Linked DNA regions of Homo sapiens. Changing the gene in region 2 together with the main gene of any one other region gives a genetic interaction. Each region holds a gene or a part of one and is shown on either strand. Other genes may lie near its edges. The genes, in order: MPHOSPH6, XRN2 and RPTOR.

The links.
Region 1: changes in XRN2 (region 2) and MPHOSPH6 together harm fitness more than expected from each alone (negative genetic interaction), as found in Homo sapiens cells (one large-scale study listed by BioGRID).
Region 3: changes in XRN2 (region 2) and RPTOR together harm fitness less than expected from each alone (positive genetic interaction), as found in Homo sapiens cells (one large-scale study listed by BioGRID).

What each region holds. Positions count from the first base shown.
Region 1 is NC_000016.10:82,147,511-82,150,448, forward strand, and holds the end of MPHOSPH6 (M-phase phosphoprotein 6), read right to left. Parts: intron 1,894-2,938; coding exon 1,799-1,893; intron 1,354-1,798; coding exon 1,221-1,353; 3' UTR 652-1,220; downstream 1-651. UniProt on the Homo sapiens protein: RNA-binding protein that associates with the RNA exosome complex. Involved in the 3'-processing of the 7S pre-RNA to the mature 5.8S rRNA and play a role in recruiting the RNA exosome complex to pre-rRNA; this function may include C1D.
Region 2 is NC_000020.11:21,306,249-21,309,904, reverse strand, and holds part of XRN2 (5'-3' exoribonuclease 2), read right to left. Parts: intron 1-3,656. UniProt on the Homo sapiens protein: Possesses 5'->3' exoribonuclease activity. May promote the termination of transcription by RNA polymerase II.
Region 3 is NC_000017.11:80,547,764-80,551,419, forward strand, and holds part of RPTOR (regulatory-associated protein of mTOR), read left to right. Parts: intron 1-3,656. UniProt on the Homo sapiens protein: Component of the mechanistic target of rapamycin complex 1 (mTORC1), an evolutionarily conserved central nutrient sensor that stimulates anabolic reactions and macromolecule biosynthesis to promote cellular biomass generation and growth.

The DNA.
Region 1 (2,938 bases), on a different chromosome or scaffold from region 2:
ATGGTGAAATGAGTTTGTCAATCAGAAGTCGACTGTGCAGACAGGTACATAAGACACGTAGTAAGTCCGGTAGTAAGTCCGTGGATTGTGGTGCTGGTAAGGCACTGGGAAGAACTCGTTACTTCCCAGAGTTGGGAGGTGCATCATTCTCATACTCACAGTGAAAAAAAAAAAAAAGGCCAGATTAACTTCAAAGTCCTATCTTTTCTCATAACTCACCAGAGAACTGAGGTCACAGAGCAATAAAACCTTCCTTACAGAGATTTGAGGAGAGAGGAGACATGTACCTCATTCACTTCCTGGGAGCGAAATTAAATCAGTAGTTCTCAGAAGTCCTAGGTACTTATCTGCAGACAGAAAGACAGACACACATACACACACTTAATTCTATGTGCTTCTTTCTGTACTTAGCATTTAGAATAGAGTTCAGACTAGGAGATGGTACCATTGGTCAGTGGTAAATTCTGTTGGGTTATACCGTAAGAAACTAAAGGTTATTTTTGACCTGTAAAAGGCAATTTCTTATGGTTCAACCTAATACATCACTATATTCTGATCAATGGCTGTTTTTTAAAGTTATTATTTGGAAAAAAGTTATATTACTGAATTAGACTAAAATTGTTATTTGAAAGTACAAGAAAATATAAAAAGTATGTGAAAGTAGATTTTTATTACAGAGCAAATTTTTCTATCAATTCAATGCTTTAAATAAAACAACATAATACCATAAACTGACAATGACCTGGGAGCATGTAAATACTTAAGGCTGGAGAGGCATTTTTATTCTTGATAAATTTATATAATAAATTCTTATGACATTTGATTCCAAATTGTATGTACGAATTGGCTTGACATAATAAATATAAACATAAGGGCAATTTAAACATTGGCAGTAGTTTATGTAAGTCAATTCAAGGTCAGTGACTGGAGAACTATATTAAGAGAAACCTGAGGTAAAAAAAATCTTTAGGAAGCAGCCCTGTAACAATGTACATTTGTAGATCAGGGGCTAAAAATCCACTCTGAATGAATACCAAGAAGCAAAGGATGTACAACATCCATCACACATCTGTTTCAAAAACAGCATGTTTCTAAAATGATAATCTCTTTACAAGTAAACGTTACAGTATTAATAACTATAGAGACACCATTGGGATGAGCTCCAGATGCCCTGCTGACTTCCACCAAGCACCCCTGGGCCATCGCTTAAGGCATCCATCTTAATCCTGGGGCTTTAAGAACATCTTCTTTGCTTTAATTGGTGTTATGTCTCCATTTTCATCTTCTTCATAATTGGCATGGTCTCTCTTTCTGGCAAACTTTTTCCCAATTGTCCCCACCAAGGTCTCATATCTGTCAAGAGGACAGGCAGCACACGTTTAATTTCAAATAAAAAGGTAGGGATCAAGCCTTGTCAAGAATATCAGACCAAATATGCAATAAAAAAGATTACGAAAAAGAAAACTATCATTAAAAGAAACCATCTGATTTAACAATTTATGAACTTCTCTAAGAGTGATTAAATTCCTTGCCATTTTGGTGTTTGCATTACCCTAAATAAATAGAGATGTACATTTTAAAATACACATTTCCAGCAGCTCTGGAAATGGGCCCTCAACTGGCAGCCTGAGACAGGTCTGTGGCCCCCGTAGGCCATTAAGAGAAGGCCGATCACAGTCATCGTCCTACTGGGGGACTCCCTTGAAAGCTGCCGTGCACTGTGGGGTAAGAGGAGCATTCCTGGGAGAGCCAATGAATGCTAGGTCCAGATTAGAAGGCTGCTGCGCAGCACGGTTACCTTCTAGCCATCTCTTCATCTGACACATCAAGCTCTACTGTTTCATCTTCAACTTCTTCTGCTTTGTGCTTAGCATTCATCTGAAGCATCAATTTCTGAAAAATACACCAGTGCTGACCTTCAGGCTAGAAAACGCTTGTGAAAGGAACTGATGTCAAACTTACCTGAAGGCAGAGAAACTGAAGTCAAATAATCTAGAGAACTAGTCAAAATTGATAAGGGACTCTCTGTAATACTTGATACCACAATGGTGTAAGAGAAGTAAGCTCTGAGTCAAAAAAATAGTAAGGCAAAGCCCCACTGAATTATACTTAGGGTGAATTTAAAGTGTATTTAAGATCATAAATCTTAGTATTAGTTACTCATATTTAAAGCAGGCATACTGCTGACACATTCCGGTGAGTGGGGGAAGAAATAATAAACTTTCAGATTTTCCCTGAACTTCCCCCACCCATCTTTAAGCCATATGGAAGAAACACTAGTCGTCAGTAATAATTTTAAATGCATCTCTTGGTGGTGGTGGTGGTGAGTGGAGGAGGTGGGAGAAGTGGAAGGCTGGCCCTGTTTAATGGAGGGAATCTGCACCTCAGCCTTACCCTCCTAAACTTTAGAGTGGATAATGCATCCCATGTAACATCCATGCACCACAGGGTCTCTCCTCCAACTCTTTCACATAAACCTTTTTGTGATAATTATCCTCTGACCTTTTTTTTTTTAAATGTGTAATCTCTTCTTTTTAGCAAGAGGAGAAGGAATAAAAGATGAGAAATCAGTCTTAACTAGTTTTTCTAAGGCTTAAAAGAGTGATAATAGTTTAAAACCTTTTCCTAGGGGGAGTGTATTCAGTGTTTCAGAATCCAGTAATTAGGGCCATTTTCTAACACCCGTCCCTGCCCCCCATCAATTTCTGCGGGCAGTGGCACCTCTCCTTTCCCATTGCAGCAGACATACTTTGGAATGCTCGCCTATCCAAACCCTACTCTTTGAATACCACATCTTCATAATCCCTGCCTTTTTCTTCCCTCTTCACCCCACTGCCCAGCCCCTCTCCTTCTCAATCTGAAGCTTAATTAAAGAAAGTCAAAGCGAGACCAGCATATATTAAAAACAAACACTTCTAACATAACACCTTAATTATCA
Region 2 (3,656 bases):
CTAGTTATCTGAGAACAGTGTAGCCAGACTGATAATGGGACAAAACAAAGAAAGTAGAATTACAAGTATCAGGAATGAAAGAGGTAACATCACTACAGATTCTAACAATATTAAAAGGATAATAACAAGTTAACAGGAAGAAAAAAGAAAACAAAAGAGAAGTAAAAACAGGAGTGAAAACATTTTAATAACAAAAAAAAAAGGATAGTAAGAAAATACTATGAACAACTTTATGTCAGCCAATTCAACTACTTAGATCAGGGGTGTCCAATCTTTTGGCTTCCCTGGGCCACTTTGGAAGAAGAATTGTCTTGGGCCACTAATACTAACGACAGCTGATGAGCTGAAAAAAAAAGAAAAGGTCTGTGCATAAATCTCATGATGTTTTAAGAAAGTTTACGAATTTGTGCTGGGCCGCATTCAAAGCATCCTGGGTTGCATGCAGCTTGCAGGCCACAGGTTGGACAAGCTTGACTTAGATGAAATGGGCAAAATCTGTGAAAGATACAAACTAAAAAAGCTCATCCAAAAAATAAATAAATAAATAAATAGGTAACCTCAATAGTTCTAGATCAACTAAAGAAACTTAATTTGCAGCTTAAAGCCTTCCCACAAAACTCCAAGTCCAGATGGCCTCACTGGTAAATTCTATCAAACATTTTAGGAAGAAACAATACTAACTCTACACAAACTCTTCCAAAAAACTGAAGGAACTCAATTTGAGGTCAACATTATTCTGACATCTCAACTACACATTACAAGAATGCTACAAATATCTTTTGTGAACAGAGACACAATTCTCAAGAATTCTCAAGAAAACTTTAGCAAACTTTAGCAAACTTGAATTCAACGTATATAAAAATAATACAACATGATCAAGTGAGGTTTATCCAAGGAATGCAAGGTGGCTTTAGCATTTAAAGACCGATAATTCACCATATGACTAGACCAAAAAATGGAAACCACAGAATGAAGTAAAACTATAAAACTTCTCTAAGAAAACACAGGAGACCTTGGCTTTGACAAAGGATTCCTTAAATACAAAAAGCAGAAATATAAAGGGAAAAAATTAATCAGACTTCATTAAAATTTTTAAATGTTTGCTCCCAAGACACTGTTAAGAAGTAAAAAGACAAGCCACAGATCAAGAGAAAATATTTGCAAAAGATATATCAAACTAAGGATTTCTATCTAGAATATGTAACAAACTCTACATTTAAGTAAGACAACCGAAGATAAAAATGAGCAAAAGATCTGAACAGATGCCTCACCCTGCCCGTGATGATATACAGAAAGCAAATAAGCATCTGAAGGAAATGCAAGTTAAAACCACAATAAGGTAACAGTACACTGGACTACCTAAAACTAAAAGGGCTAACTATATCAAGTGTTGGTGAGGAAGTTGAGCAACTGGAACCCTGATATGCTGCTGATGCCAATGTAAAATGGCACAACCAGTTTGAAAAAAAAAGTCTGGCAGGTTTTTCTTTTTAAGTAATCACACACCTAATATACAATCCAACCATTTCACTCCTAATGTTTTTCCCCCAAACAAATGCAAGCATACGTCCCTACAATGACTTGTACAGAGATGTTCATAGGTTTCTTTTTCAGAAAGCCAAAAACTGGAAACAATCCCAATGTTCATCAATCATCTGAATAAATAAATAAAATGTGGTGTATCTACACACAGAATACTATCCAAAAATTAAAAGACGAGGCAGGCAGATACTTGAGGTCAGGAGTTCAAGACCAGCCTGGCCAACATGGTGAAACTCCATCTCTACTAAAAATACAAAAATTAGCCGGGTGTGGTGGCATGTGCCTGTAATCCCAGCTGCTTGGGAGGCTGAGGCAGGAGAATTGCTTGAACCCAGAAGGTGGAGGTTGCAGTGAGCCGAGATCGCACCACTGCACTCCAGCCTGGGCGACAGAGCGAGACTCCATCTCAAAAAAAAATAAAAACAAAAAAGAAATAAACTACTGACACATACAACAACGGAAGAATTTCAAAATAAGTATACTGAATGAAAGTAACTGAGGCAAAAAATGAGTATATACTATATAATCTCATTTATAAAAAATTATAGAAAATGAAAACTTATCATACGGTCAGAAAGCAAACCAGTCAGTGGTTGGCAAAAGACAGGTGGCAGGGAGGGATAGTAGAAAGGAACTACAAAAGGGCAGAAGGAATGTTTTAGAGGTCACGTTCACTGTCTTGGTTGTGCTGGTTTCACAGATGTATGCACTGTATTAAATTATATACTTTAAGCCCAGGACTTTGAGGCTGCAGTGAGCCATGATTGCACACTACATTCCAGCCTGGTGACAGAGCAAGACCTCAACTCGAAAAAAGTTAAAAGAAAATTGTACACTTTAATTACCTGCAGTTTATTCTATGTCAAGTATACCTCAACAAAGCTGCAAAAACACCAAAGGTTGGGGGAGGTTTCAAGGAAAGCCAGAGAATGAGAGAGAAAATAAAAATAAAAATACATGAGTCTAAGAGGACCAGTATCCTGAGTCTGGAAAGGGAAGAAAAAAAGGTCAAGAAATCATCAAACAGCATTCCCTAAAACCGAAGAACGTAAGACTCCAGACTCAAAGAGTGAGCCACGTACTGATCAAAATGAATCTGAATTTAAAATAACATCTATACCTGGGTACCTAATAATGAAAGTTTACACTATCAAGAAAAAGATCTTTTTAAAATCTAGGAAGGAAAACTGATCACAAAAGAATGAAAGCATATGAGCATAAAAATTAAGTCCTTCTGGTTTCCACACTAGCTCTGACATTTATCAGCTGAGTGACCTTGGGTATGATACGCGACCCTGCTGTGTTTCCATTTTCTCATCTGAAATAATAATAAACATAACAATAATCATTATTTTTCTGAGATGGAGTCTCGCTCTGTCACCAGGCTGGAGTGCAGTGGCGGGATCTCGGCTCACTGCAATGTCTGTCTCCCGGGTGCAAGTGATTCTCCTGCCTCAGCCTCCCAAGTAGCTGGGACTACAGGCGCGCCACCATGCGCAGCTAATTTTTGTATTTTTAGTAGAGATGGGGTTTCACCATGTTAGCCAGGATGGTCTGGATCTCTTGACCTCGTGATCCACCCACCTCAGCCTCCCAAAGTGCTGGGATTACAGTCGTGAGCCACCGCACCCGGCCAATAAACATAGTAATTATTATAACATAATAACAATATTGGTTGTCTCCAAATAACGTGCTTCTATTATTTGTATGTAATAAAAATAATTACAACAGTAGAAGTCATGTGGTTGTGAGGATCAAACAAGTTATAATAAAGTTCTTAAAACAATGGTAAATGCTATATAACTGCTGGTTAAATAAATACATCACATTAACACCGAACTTGTCATCAACACTACTAGATGAGAGAGTACAAAAGAACAATTTCTTTCAAAGTTCTGAGGGAACCTAATATTAAAACTGGAATTCCTGGCCAGGTGCGGTGGCTCATGCCTGTAATCCCAGCACTTTGGGAGGCAGGGGCTGGTGGATCACCTGAGGTCAGGAGTTCAAGATCAGCTTGGCCAACATGGTGAAACTCCGTCTCTACTAAAACTACAAAAATTAGCCGGGCGTGGTGGCGCGCCTGTAGTCCCAGCTACTCGGGAGGCTGAGGC
Region 3 (3,656 bases), on a different chromosome or scaffold from region 2:
GGTAGCATAAGAGAATGAAACAGGCCACATTTAAGAAGAATAATGGCATAGGTTCAAAGATAAAGACAAATGGCAGCTGACATTTGGCACAGTGTGTGTGACAGTTTCTGGAGGGTGGGAACAGGGGCTCCCTGATGCCATAACTGAAGGGGCAACTGGGCTATGGCCAGGCCTCTCTCTTTGTCTTTGAGAAGTCAGCAAACTTTTTTTTTCTTTTATTGTAAATATTCATACTAATTCAGATTTATTACCAAACACACTGTAGTCCAACACTGCAGGCTGAACAACCCCATTTGTGGAGTGTTTTTCTGTTTCTTTTTTTTTTTTTTTTTTTTTGAGACAGGGTCTTGCTCTGTCATCCAGGCTGGAGTACAGTGGTGAGATCACACGGCTCACTGCAGCCTCGACCTCCTGGGCCTGAGTGATCCTCTCACCTCAGCCTCCCCAGTAGCTGAGACTATAAGTGTGCGCCAGTGTGTCTGGGGTTGGGGAGTCTCACTGTGTTGCCCAGGCTGGTCTTGAACTCCTGGGATCAAGCAATCCTCCTGCCTTGTCCTCCAAAAATGCTAGGATTACAGGCATCAGCCAACACGCTCAGCCTGGGGTGGTTTTTTTTTTTTTTTTTTTTTTTTTTTGAGATGGAGTTTCATTCTTGTTGCCCAGGCTGGAGTGCAGTGGTGTGGTCTTGACTCACTGCAACCTCCGCCTCCCAGGATCAAGCTATTCTCCTGCCTCAGCCTCCCAAGTAGCTGGGATTACAGGCGCCTGGCTAGTTTTTTTTGTATTTTTAGTGGAGATGGGGTTTCACCATGTTGGCCAGGCTGGTCCTGAACTCCTGACCTCGGGTCGTTCACCTGCCTCAGCCTCCCAAAGTGCTGGGATTACAGGTGTGAGCCACAGCACCTGGCCCTGGGGTGTTTTTTGACCAGTGGGTTACCTACGTAAGAATCTCTGTTACCCAGGCCTCCAGGCCACACAGTCCCACTGTGCTGGACGTAGCCTCCAGTCTGGTGGAGCAGCATGTTTGTAAAGTGAAATGTGTGGGCGTGGTTGTTCTGTGCTAGGAGCTACATCAACTACTTCCTGGTGGCCACTGACTGTCCTAAATGCAAGCTGAGATTTTGCTTCTTCTTGTGGTTAATGTGCAATTCCATACGCTTTTATTTTGTACATATATTCATTAGTTCTTACTGGCTCCTATTTAGTAGCCTTGCTACAGATTCCTCAAATTGACATCTTTACCAAAGTTGACTGACTGATGACTCCCAAGAAGTTTTTTTTGCCACCCAACACTTGGCATCCTTCCAGAGCTACAGCCCTTGCCCGCTCTCAGTTGGGATTCCTGCCATCTTTGTTTTGAATCAGTCTTGGTTTTCAAATGCCACTTTTACCACATTTTAATTTCTAAGTTACTGTTACTTTAAAATTATTATCAAGTTAGTTTGTTGTTTGGTTAATTCTACTATGTATAGTGAATGAGGCATATATGTATCCATAGTGTTTTTAGCTTGCAATTTTCAAATAACTAGACATATATGAATTGTAGTTCAAAATGAATCATTCACAGACCTTTGGCTAAAACAGATACGTATATATCTCCCCTATTTGTGTTTTTGGCTCACTGCAACCTCCGCCTCTTGGGTTCAAGCGATTCTCCTGCCGCAGCCTCCCGAGTAGCTGGGATTACAGGTGCCCACCACCATGCCTGGCCAATTTTTTTCATATTTTTATTAGAGACGGGGTTTCACTATGTTGGCCAGGCTGGTCTCAAACTCCTGACCTCAGGTGATCCACCTGCCTCGGCCTCCCAAAGTGCTGGGATTACAGGTGTGAGCCACCGTGCCTGGTCTAACTGTGATACTTTATAGTTATCACAGAGTTCATTTTCCTACTGGAAAGTGGACAGTGGGGATAACTGGTCTCAGATGACTCTTTTGCCTGGAATATGTGGGATGGAATGACGGGTGCTTGAGAGCTATTGCTCTGAAAGTGTTGACAGACATGCTATGTCTACACACATGTAGACTGACAGACACTCTGTCTACATGCATGTAGCACCCCTGGCAGACACATTCTGTGTACACATGTGTGGTGTCATTGTCAGACACTATTTCCATGCATGTGTAGGACCACTGACAGGCATCCTATGTCTACATGTGTAGGGGATGAAACGGTTAGATGAAGAAGGCTATTTTGTAAACCATTCTCTAGACTCAGTTGCATTGCTCTGTAGCCATACTTTGCCCAGGTCATGGAGGAAGCAGAGTAGATCTGTTCAACTAATACATGGACTGCCAAAGGTTTATGCGGTCTTTTCAGCAAGGGTAATAGCAATCCTTCATAATCTACACTACCCCCTCTGCTTTCCTCACCTTGCGTCCTCTCCACATTCCAACTGTGCCCTGTTCCACTCCCCTGAGACTGGTCTCCATATGGCCCCAGTTTGTTGCTAAATCTAAAGTTCTCTTCTCTGTCCTTCTCTGTTCTTATTTCACCTCTCAGCAGCATTCCACAATGTGGACCATGGCCTCTTCATAAAGCTCTTTCCTCACTTGCTTCTGTGTCTCCACGAAACTCGGATTTTCCTCTTAGGTCACTAGTTGTTCCTTCTCAGACTCCTTTGCTACCTGACACCTAAATGCAGGGGCACCCCAGGAATTGATCTTGGACCCCATTCTCTGTTCTGGGTGTGCCCCTCCCTAGCAGATCTCATCGGGGCCCATGATTTTAAATAGTGTCTACATGCCAGTGATGCTTAAACCCCCAATCTTTAGTTCTGATCTGGCCTGAAATTTCTGTCTCAGATGCCTACTGCCTGCTTTTTCTTAGTTTTCTCCATCACCGCTTGCCACAACCACCATCCACTCAGTTGTTCAAGCTGTAAGTTTAGAGTTTATCCTTAATTCTTTCCTCTCCCTCTCTTTATCGCCCCATCCAATTCATTAGAACCCATCAGCGTTACTTCCAAAGCATGTCTTACATTGGCCTGCTTCATTTTGTCTCCACTGATGCAGCCCCAGTCCAGGCAGCCACCGTCTCTTGTCTGGACACTGCATTTGTGTCCTGACTGGTCTCCCTATGTCCATTCTTGCCCTACAACCAGTTTTTCACATAGCAGTCAGAGGGATCTTTTATTTATTTTGAAATGGAGTCTCTCCTTGTTTCTCAGGCTGGAGTGCAATGGCGTGATCTCGGCTCACTGCAACCTCCACCTCCCGAGTTCAAGAGATTCTCGTGCCTCAGTCTCCCGAGTAGCTGGGACTACCAGTGCATGACACCATGCCCGGCTGATTTTTTGTATTTTTAGTAGAGATGCGGTTTCACCATGTTGGCCAGGCTGGTCTTGAACTCCTGAGCTCAAGTGATCCTCCCACCTCAGCCTCCCAGAGTGCTGGATTACAGGCGTGAGCCATCACACCTGGCCAGAGGGATTTTTTGAAAGTGTGAAGGGGTGGGTTGCCCCTCCACACCTGTGGGTGTTTCTTGTTAGGTGGGACGAGAGACTTGGAAAAGAAAAAGAAACAGAGACAAAGTATAGAGAGAGAAATAAGGGGACCCAGGGAACCAGCGTTCAGCATATGGAGGATCCCGCCAGCCTCAGAGTTCCCTTAGTATTTATTGATCATTCGTGGGTGTTTCTCCGAGAGGGGGATGTG